3 separate regions of the Homo sapiens genome follow, and all the other regions are linked to region 1. The links come from fine-mapping of genetic effects on gene expression. A gene starts in region 1. Each other region holds a variant in brackets. All regions are shown on one strand. Distances are between the middles of the regions.

What was found.
Region 2: its variant is fine-mapped to the expression of TTLL1 in cerebellar hemisphere (GTEx, PIP above 0.99). The same link has a PIP of 0.9 or more in anterior cingulate cortex, cerebellum, cerebral cortex, hypothalamus, nucleus accumbens and prefrontal cortex.
Region 3: its variant is fine-mapped to the expression of TTLL1 in whole blood (INTERVAL, PIP 0.97).

The regions. Positions count from the first base shown.
Region 1 is chr22:43,087,758-43,090,512 of GRCh38, reverse strand. It overlaps TTLL1 (TTL family tubulin polyglutamylase complex subunit L1), which reads left to right and starts at 1,122. Exons shown (of 11, transcript NM_012263.5): 1 at 1,122-1,236. RefSeq lists silencers at 148-207, 956-1,250, 1,015-1,354 and an enhancer at 956-1,250.
Region 2 is chr22:43,038,001-43,040,755 of GRCh38, reverse strand. It overlaps TTLL1 (TTL family tubulin polyglutamylase complex subunit L1), which reads left to right. Exons shown (of 11, transcript NM_012263.5): 11 at 851-1,240. The coding sequence ends at 980. It overlaps TTLL1-AS1 (TTLL1 antisense RNA 1), which reads right to left and starts at 2,171. Exons shown (of 3, transcript NR_125362.1): 1 at 492-2,171. The variant G/A (reference allele first, on the strand shown) is at 950.
Region 3 is chr22:43,031,641-43,034,395 of GRCh38, reverse strand. No RefSeq gene overlaps it. Among named protein-coding and RNA genes, the nearest start is that of TTLL1-AS1, 5.6 kb to the left of the region's middle. RefSeq lists an enhancer at 1-349. The variant T/C (reference allele first, on the strand shown) is at 1,252.

The DNA of each region.
Region 1 (2,755 bases):
CAAGCCTTCACTCATCTCCTGGGTTTAAGGTGAGAACACTGTAGTCGGAAGCCTTGGGACTTCTCAAGGCCTCACAACCAGACAGCAGCTGAAGGGTATGAATTGGCAATTTGGACTCCAGATAAGTGTTGGTTCCACTAGATGGTGCCAAAAGTAAATGATGATGCGCTGAATGTGCTCTGGGCCTGGGAGGCGGTTGTGTGGGAGATTATAGGAAGTGATGTTAGCAAAGCTCCAATCATCACTAAGAAAGCACACCACCACCCCTCCTGAGAGGCAGCAGCATGAATGGTCAGGTGTCCTGGGTTCAAAGCCAGACTCTGTCACTTACAAGTTGCACAAGTTTGCATAACTCTTTAAATTGATGAAATTAAAAATGAATAATTGTATAGAGAATTCGAGGTAACACAGGTCTATAACGAGAATAATAAACGTCTTTTTTTTTTTTTTTTGAGGCGGAGTCTTGTTCTGTCGCCCAGGCTTGAGTGCAGTGGCACGATCTTGGCTCACTGCAACCTCTGTCTCCCGGGTTCAAGCGATTCTCTTGCCTCAGCCTAGCCAGGATGGTCTCGATCTCCTGACCTCGCGACCCACCCGCCTCTGCCTCCCAAAGTGCTGGGATTACAGGCGTGAGCCACCGAGTCTGGCCCAGATAAACACTTTTTAAAAAAAATTATTTTATTTTTATGTTATTATTATTATTATTATTTGAGATGGAGTCTCGCTCTATCGCCCAGGCTGGAGTGCAGTGGCGCAACATCACCATTTCTTCAGATAAGGAAGCCGAGGTAGAAGGGGTAGGAGAGGCTAAACAGCGGATTGAGACCGAACCCAGGATTCGGACCTAATCATCACACCGCTCTACCTTTCTTTTTAGACTTAATCCCGTGCTCCAGACCCTTCTCAATCTCCTTTCTGGGCCCCGAGAGGGTGGACGGCCTGGCATTTCCTAGGATCCAAGCCCTGGGCATAGCGGCCGCCCGAGGTATGGAGCCCAAAGGAGCCCCAGGCAAGTCTGACTCCGGAAATAGTCGCAGCGCCGGCGGTCGCGTCCTGGGTTGCCAGGGCGCCGCCCTGGAAGTAGAGTGCAGCGCGGGGCGGGGCGGGCCGGTGCGCCTGGCAGTCGGCTGCGTACTCCTGCGAGCGCCGGAGAGGGGCTGGAGGCGGGGCGAGGGCGCGGCTCGAGGCATCCCTGCAGGGCGCTCCTCCGAGTCCCTCGGCGCTCTGAGCCCACAGGTGAGGTCCTGTCCCCCAGGCCGCCGCCTCCCGGGCACCGAGGGTGTGGCTGCGCGCGGGCTGGCGAGTGCGCATGGGTGAGAGAGTGTGGGCGCCAGTGTCTACGCGGCTGCGAAAATGCGGTTCAGATGCTGCTTGCCGGATCCGCGTCCTCCAGGAAGCCCGCGCTAACCACCGTGCCTTTCTCCGTCCGCTGAGTTCCTATGACTTACCTCGTGCTGTCCGACTGTTGCAATTGCATCATTATGTTTATTATTTGTTATCCCAGACTTTCATTGTTCCTACACGTTTCCCATTCGTTTGCAATCTGTGTTGTTTCTGTTGGCATCTTTTGCAGGGCGCAATGTACCTGTGGAGAGAACTCAGGGCAGGAGACAAGAGCCTTGTGTCTTCCCTCTAGATGACTGGACCAAGACATTTCCCCTCTCTGATTCCCTATCAGCTAAGAGGGCAGGGCGGGGTAGTCATCCTTTTCCATAGAGTAGCTGGGGCATTAGAGGAGATTAATTCTGGAAGTGAAAGTATCTTATCATTGTTAGCCCTTTTGGCATTTGCAAAGCAGGTTCTTTGCTCAGGAAACGTTTGATGAGCACATTATGGTGCCGGGTTGTGGCGGTACAAAAAGATGGGCCCCGGCCGGGCACGGTGGCTCACGCCTGTAATCCCAGCACTTTGGGAGGCCGAGGCGGGAGGATCACGAGGTCAGGAGATCGAGACCATCCTGGCTAACACGGTGAAACCCCGTCTATACTAAAAATACAAAAAAAAAAAAATTAGCCGGGCATGGTGGCGGGGGCCTGTAGTCCCAGCTACTCGGGAGGCTGAGGCAGGAGAATGGCGTGAACCCGGGAGGCGGAGCTTGCAGTGAGCCGAGATTGCGCCACTGCACTCCAGCCTGGGCGACAGAGCGAGATTCTGTCTCAAAAAAAAAAAAAAAAAAAAAAAAAAAAAAGATGGGCCCTTCTCTGCCCTCAAATTACAGACACTGGTAAGCAGTCACTGTGGAGCATGGTACTGTCACCCAGTGCGGGCGTGGAGATGGACAGTGACAATACCGCTGTGAACGAATGCCCTGCTCAACATGAAGTCATCACTGACATTGTTATTACTTTATTTATTTATTTATTTATTTTTAGACGGAGTCTTGCTTTGTTGCCCAGGCTGGAGTGCGGTCGCTCTCGGCTCACTGCAACCTCTGCCTCCTGGGTTCAAGCGATTCTCCTGCCTCAGCCTCCCATGTAGCTGTGATTACAGGCACGCGCCACCATGCCCCGCTAATTTTTTAAATTTTAGTAGAGATGGGGTTTCGCCATGTTGGCCAGGCTGGTCTCGAGCTCCTGACCTCAGGTGATCCGCCCACCTCGGCCTCCCAAAGTGCTGGGATTACAAGCGTGAGCCACTGTGCCTGGCCATATTCTTGGTTTTTTTTTTTTTTTTTTGAGACCGTCTCACTCTGTCACCCAGGCTGGAGTGTGCAGTGGTGCGATCTTGGCTCACTGCAACCTCTGCCTCCCGGGTT
Region 2 (2,755 bases), 50 kb after region 1:
AAGAAAATGGGGGCCAGGCACGGTGGCCCACGCCTGTCATCCCAGCACTTTGGGAGGCCGAATGGGCAGATCACCTGAGGTCAGGAGTTCGAGACCAGCCTGGCCAACATGGGGAAACCCTGTCTCTACTAAAAATACAAAAATTTGCTGGGTGTGGTGGTGGGCACCTATGATCCCAGCTACCTGAAAGGCTGAGGCAGGAGAATCGCTTGAACCAGGGAGGTGGAGGTTGTAGTGAGCCAAGATTGCGCCACTGTATACCAGCCTTGGTGATAGAGTGAAACTCCATCTCAAAAAAAAAGAAAATGGGGAGGGGTGGCGTGGGTCACACTGGCAGAGTCTCTAGCTGAGTGTGCACCGTGGGGCCTCTCTGCCCTGGCCTCCACTGACCAGTGCTCATGTACCACTCCCATCTGGAATGGAGTTAGTCCCCCCAGCCTGCAGGTGCCTTGTGTGAAGCGTTTCCAGCCAGGCAGTCTCACCTCACTTACCCTGGGCTGGTTCTGTGTCACCTCATGCATGTTGCCTTTGGAGTCATTGCCATATTTGACCTGGTGACCTGTATAAAATGTCAGCTTCCGAGGGGAGACCACTGTCCACAATAACAACAAGGTTGTACACATAGGCAGGCTGGCCTTGGGGAGCATTTGCTGGGCTGCGAGAGCCACCTGGCAGGCAGGTGGGCTGGAGCCAGGTGGGAGGTGGGCGGGAGCCAGCAGGAGTCGCGAGGGTGGGGCCCCCTCAGGCCGCTTCTCTGGGTGATGTCATATTTGCCACACAGCAGCCTGGTGGCCCTGCCTGTTGCCTTTGAAAGAGAGCCTGCCGTGATCCTGGCTGTTTCTGTCTCCAGGTATGATGAAGAATTGGCCCAGGGTGACGGGGCTGACCGGGAGCTGAGAAGCCGTCAGGGTCAGTCTCTGGGGCCCAGAGCAGGCCGATCGAGAGACTC[G/A]GGGAGAGCGGTCCTCACCACCTGGAAGTGAGTCCCACCTGGACCTTATCAAAACTACTCACTCCACCTGGGCCCCTGCTGAAGCCCTATTTTGAAATTTCCCTTTTGTAGAGCTTTTTTCCTTTCCTAAGCCCTGTAAATAAACGAAGGCACTTCTTTGGAAGGTTATGGAGTCTGTTTGACTAGTGCTAAAGGAAACAATTCATGCGGATGTATAAAACTCGCTCTTTTTTTTTTAATTTTTAACCTAAGCAGAATTTTCATATTAAAAACTCACTTTTTTGACAGAAAGTAACAGCTTCAAGCATGTAATTTGATGTGTCACAAGGTTTAAACATTAAAAAAACTTTACACTAAATTAAAAACAAAACAAATCTTATAGACTCGTCCTGCCACGAGAGAGGAATGTATTTAACTGACGGCTCTTTTAGTTGCGTTTCTTTTTACTTGACTGCGATTTTTTTTTTTTTTCCCGAGACAGAGTTTTGCTCTGTCGCCCAGGCTGGAGTGCACTGGCACAATCTTGGCTCACTGCAACCTCTGCCTCCTGGGTAGTATTTCTCCCACCTCAGGCTCCCAAGTAGCTGGGATTACAGGCGTGTGCCACCACACCTGGCTAATTTTTGTATTTTTAGTAGAGATGGGGTTTTGACCATGTTGGGCAGGCTGGTCTCAAACTCCTGACCTCAGGTGATCTGCCCACCTCGGCCTCCCAAAATGCTGGGATTACAGAGGTGAGCCACCACGCCCAGCTTACTTGACTGTGATTTTGAAGAAAACAGGCAACTAGAAATATTCCTCGGTAATTTATCTTTACAAAGGCCTTTGTCTAGGTGCTCCCAGGAAGACCTGTTTTCTTTTCTTTTCTTCTCTTTTCTTTTTTTTTTTCTTTTCAGACAGGATCTCGCCCTGTCACCCAGGCTGGAGTGCCGTGGTGCCATTGTGGCTCAACTTCCTGGGCTCAAGTGATCCGCTCACCTCAGCCTCCCGAGTAACTGGGACCACACAGGCACACACCACCACCCCCAGCTACTTTTTAAAGTTTTTTTTGTAGAGACAGAGTTTCACCATGTTGGCCAGGCTGTTCTCGAACTCCTGGGCTCAAGCGATACTCCTGCCTAAGCTTCCCAAAGTGTTGGGATTACAGGCATGAGCCACCACGCCTGGCTTCAAAAAGACCTGTTTCTACCACTTCGGTTTTGTGGATGAGTCTGTTGTAAATGGAACTAGATGAGCACAGACAGGTCCGGCTGTGTGCCTTTTATGACGTCAGCAGCTGGGTTTGCTACAGGGAAGCGCCGTGGGCAGCCAGGAGCTGTGGGAGGAGCGATGGCTGCGGGACAGGCTGCGCGAGCGTGGTTGTTCCCATGCAGTCTCCCGGTAGCCCGGTGACTTACAGGAGTGTATGGAGAGGACCTGAGTTGGTGGGTAGATGGACAGATGCATTTGAGTAATAACTCATGAGTTACAGTGCTGTTCTTAGGAAGGGTCTTTTTTTTTTTTTTTTTTTTTGAGGTGGAGTTTCACTCTTGACACCCAGGCTGGAGTGCAATGGCACAATCTAGGCTCACTGCAACCTCCACCTCCTGGGTTCAGGCGATTCTCATGGCTCAGCCTCCCAAAGAGGTGGGCTTACAGGCGCCTGCCACCACGCCCAACTAATTTTTGTATTTTTAGTGGAGACGGGGTTTCACCATGTTGGCCAGGCTGGTCTCGAACTCCTGACCTCAGGTGATCCTCCCGCCTCCGCCTCCCAAAGTGCTGAAATTACAGGCGTGAGCCACTGCGCCCGGCCAGGAAGGGCCT
Region 3 (2,755 bases), 56 kb after region 1:
TATTTTTAGTAGAGATGGGGTTTCACTATGTTGGCCAGGCTGGTCTTGAACTCCAGACCTCAAGTGATCCGCCAGCCTCCATCTCCCAAAGTGCTGGGATTACAGGCATGAGCTACCGTGCCCGGCTTCCAGCCAAATGTTTTTGAGTGATGGCATCAGTGTTCTTAGAGATGTGCCTCTCTAAGGATGACGGAGCTGGTGAGAGGCTAGAGGGAGATCTGGCAGTGCAGGCCACAATGTGAACTCAGGCGGTGCCCTAGGGACGGGAGGAGGGGAGTTGTGCACAGGGAGCCTGCACACCGGGTGGAAGGGGATCTGCAGAGACGAGCAGTTCTCAGTGGCCCAGTAGGGGGCGTGTGTTAAACGGGGTTTGAGCCCTGAATGTAGAAGGAGGTAAACTGCAAAGCTGCAGTAACAAACGTGCTTTTCAGAAGCTGTTCAGAAAGGCCACGCTACTCATGGTTATGAATAATGCTGCCTCGAGGCCATGGCTGAATAGCAAGAACGTCACCAGGCAGCTTCCCTTCCTGCATCTTGTACTGGTTAAAATGAAATCAGAACTTTTTGTTTTTTTGGGACGGAGTCTTGCTCTGTTGCCCAGGCTGGAGTGCAATGGCGTAATCTTGGTTCACTGCAACCTCCACCTCCCAGGTTCCAGTGATTCTCCTGTCTCAGCTGGGATTACAGGCGCCCGCCACCATGCCCAGCTAATTTTTGTATTTTTAGTAGAGATGGGGTTTCACCATCTTGGCCAGGCTGGTCTTGAACTCCTGACCTGGTGGTCCACCCACCTTGGCCTCCCAAAGTGCTGGGATTACAGGCGTGAGCCACCACGTCCAGCCTGATAGCTCTTTTTTTTTTGAGACAGGGTCTGGCTCTGTCATCCAGGCTGGAGCGCAGTGGTATGATCACAGCTCACTGCAGCCTTGACCTCCTGGGGTGATCCTCCCACCTCAGCCTCCCAAGCAGCTGGGATTACAGGTGCATGCTACCACACCCTGCTGATTTTTATTTATTTTATTTTATTTTGTTTTTTGAAACAGAGTCTCATTCTGTCACCCAGGCTGGAGTGCAGTGGTGTGGTCTCGGCTCACTGCAACTTCTGCCTTCTGGGTTCAGTCGATTCTCCCACCTCAGCCTCCTAAGTAGTTGAGATTACAGGCACATGCCACCACGTGCGGCTAACTTTTGTATTTTTAGTAGTGACAGGGTTTCACTATGTTGGCCAGGCTGGTCTCAAACTCCTGACCT[T/C]GTGCTCCACCTGCCTCGGCCTCCCAGGGTGCTGGGATTACAGGCATGAGCCACCGTGCCTGGCTGCTAATTTTTTATTTTTTTGTAGCGACAGGGTCTCACCATGTTACCCAGGCTGGTCTTGAACTCTTGGCCTCAAGCAATTGGCCTGCCTTGGCCTCCCAAAGTGCTGGGATTACAAACGTGAACCACTGCTCCCCTGAAGTAGTATCTCATTATGGTTTTGATTTGCATTTTTTCTGACAGCTGATGATGTTGAGTATCTTTTCATGTGCTTATTGGCCATTCGTATGCCTTCCTGGGAGAAACTGTTTTGATTTATTTATTTATTTTTTTCTTGAGACAGGGTCTTACTCCATCACCTAGGCTGGAGTGCAGTGGCACAATCACAGCTCCCTACAGCCTCAACCTCCCAGGCTCAGGCGATCCTCCCACTTCAGCCTCCTGAGCAGCTAGAACTACAGGCATGTGCCACCATGCCCAGCTAATTTTTTGTATTTTTTGTAGAGATGGGGTTTTGCCATGTTGCCCAGGCTGGTTTCAAACTCCTGGGCACGGCTGGGTGCGGTGGCTCACGCCTGTAATCCCAGCACTTTGGGAGGCCGAGGCAGATGGATCATGAAATCAAGACCATCCTGGCTAACACGGTGAAACCCCGTCTCTACTAAAAATACAAAAAATTAGCCGGGTATGGTGGCAGGCGCCTGTAGTCCCAGCTACTTGGGAGGCTGAGGCAGGAGAATGGTGTGAACCCGGGAGGCAGAGCTTGCAGTGAGCTGAGATCACGCCACTGCACTCCAGCCTGGGTGACAGAGCGAGACTCCATCTCAAAAAAAAAAAAAAAAAAGAAAAACTCCTGGGCTCACATGATCCGCCCACCTTGGCCCCCCAAAGGATTACAGGCAGGGGCCACTATGCCCAGCCGCATTTTTAAAGGGGTGATTTTTGTACTGCTCATAGGAAATCATGACTCCTCTCTAATTCTGTGGTAGAAGGCATCATTGCCTCTTCTATAAAGCCTTTCCTGGTGACTCTAGTCTCCAATGGTCTCTCCTTTCTCTTACATTTTATTATTATTTTAAAAAATATTAGAGATGGGGGTCTTGTTATGTTGCATAGGGTGGTCTGGAACTCCTGGGCTCCAGGGATCCTCCCATCTCAGCCTCCTGAAGTGCTGGGATTACAGGCATGAGTCACCACGCCCAGCCTCTCTTGCATTTTAAAGCATAAATCAGATTCTATCAGAGCCCTAATGCCCTCCAAAAGCCTCCCCTGGAACATAAATAAAATCAAGTTCCTCGCCTCTCTGGCCTCCCCCTCCACCCCCTCCCTTCTGCCCTTGCTGGTTTTGCTGGAGACACAGCAATCTTCAAGCGTCATGCCCCTCCCTGCCTCAGGGCCTTTGCATGGCAGGCCCCTCTACTAGAATTCTCCTCCCCCATCTCTGCAGGCCTGGCTCTTTTCATCACTTGGAGCAGCCTATCCTGTCTGCCACCTTCCCAGA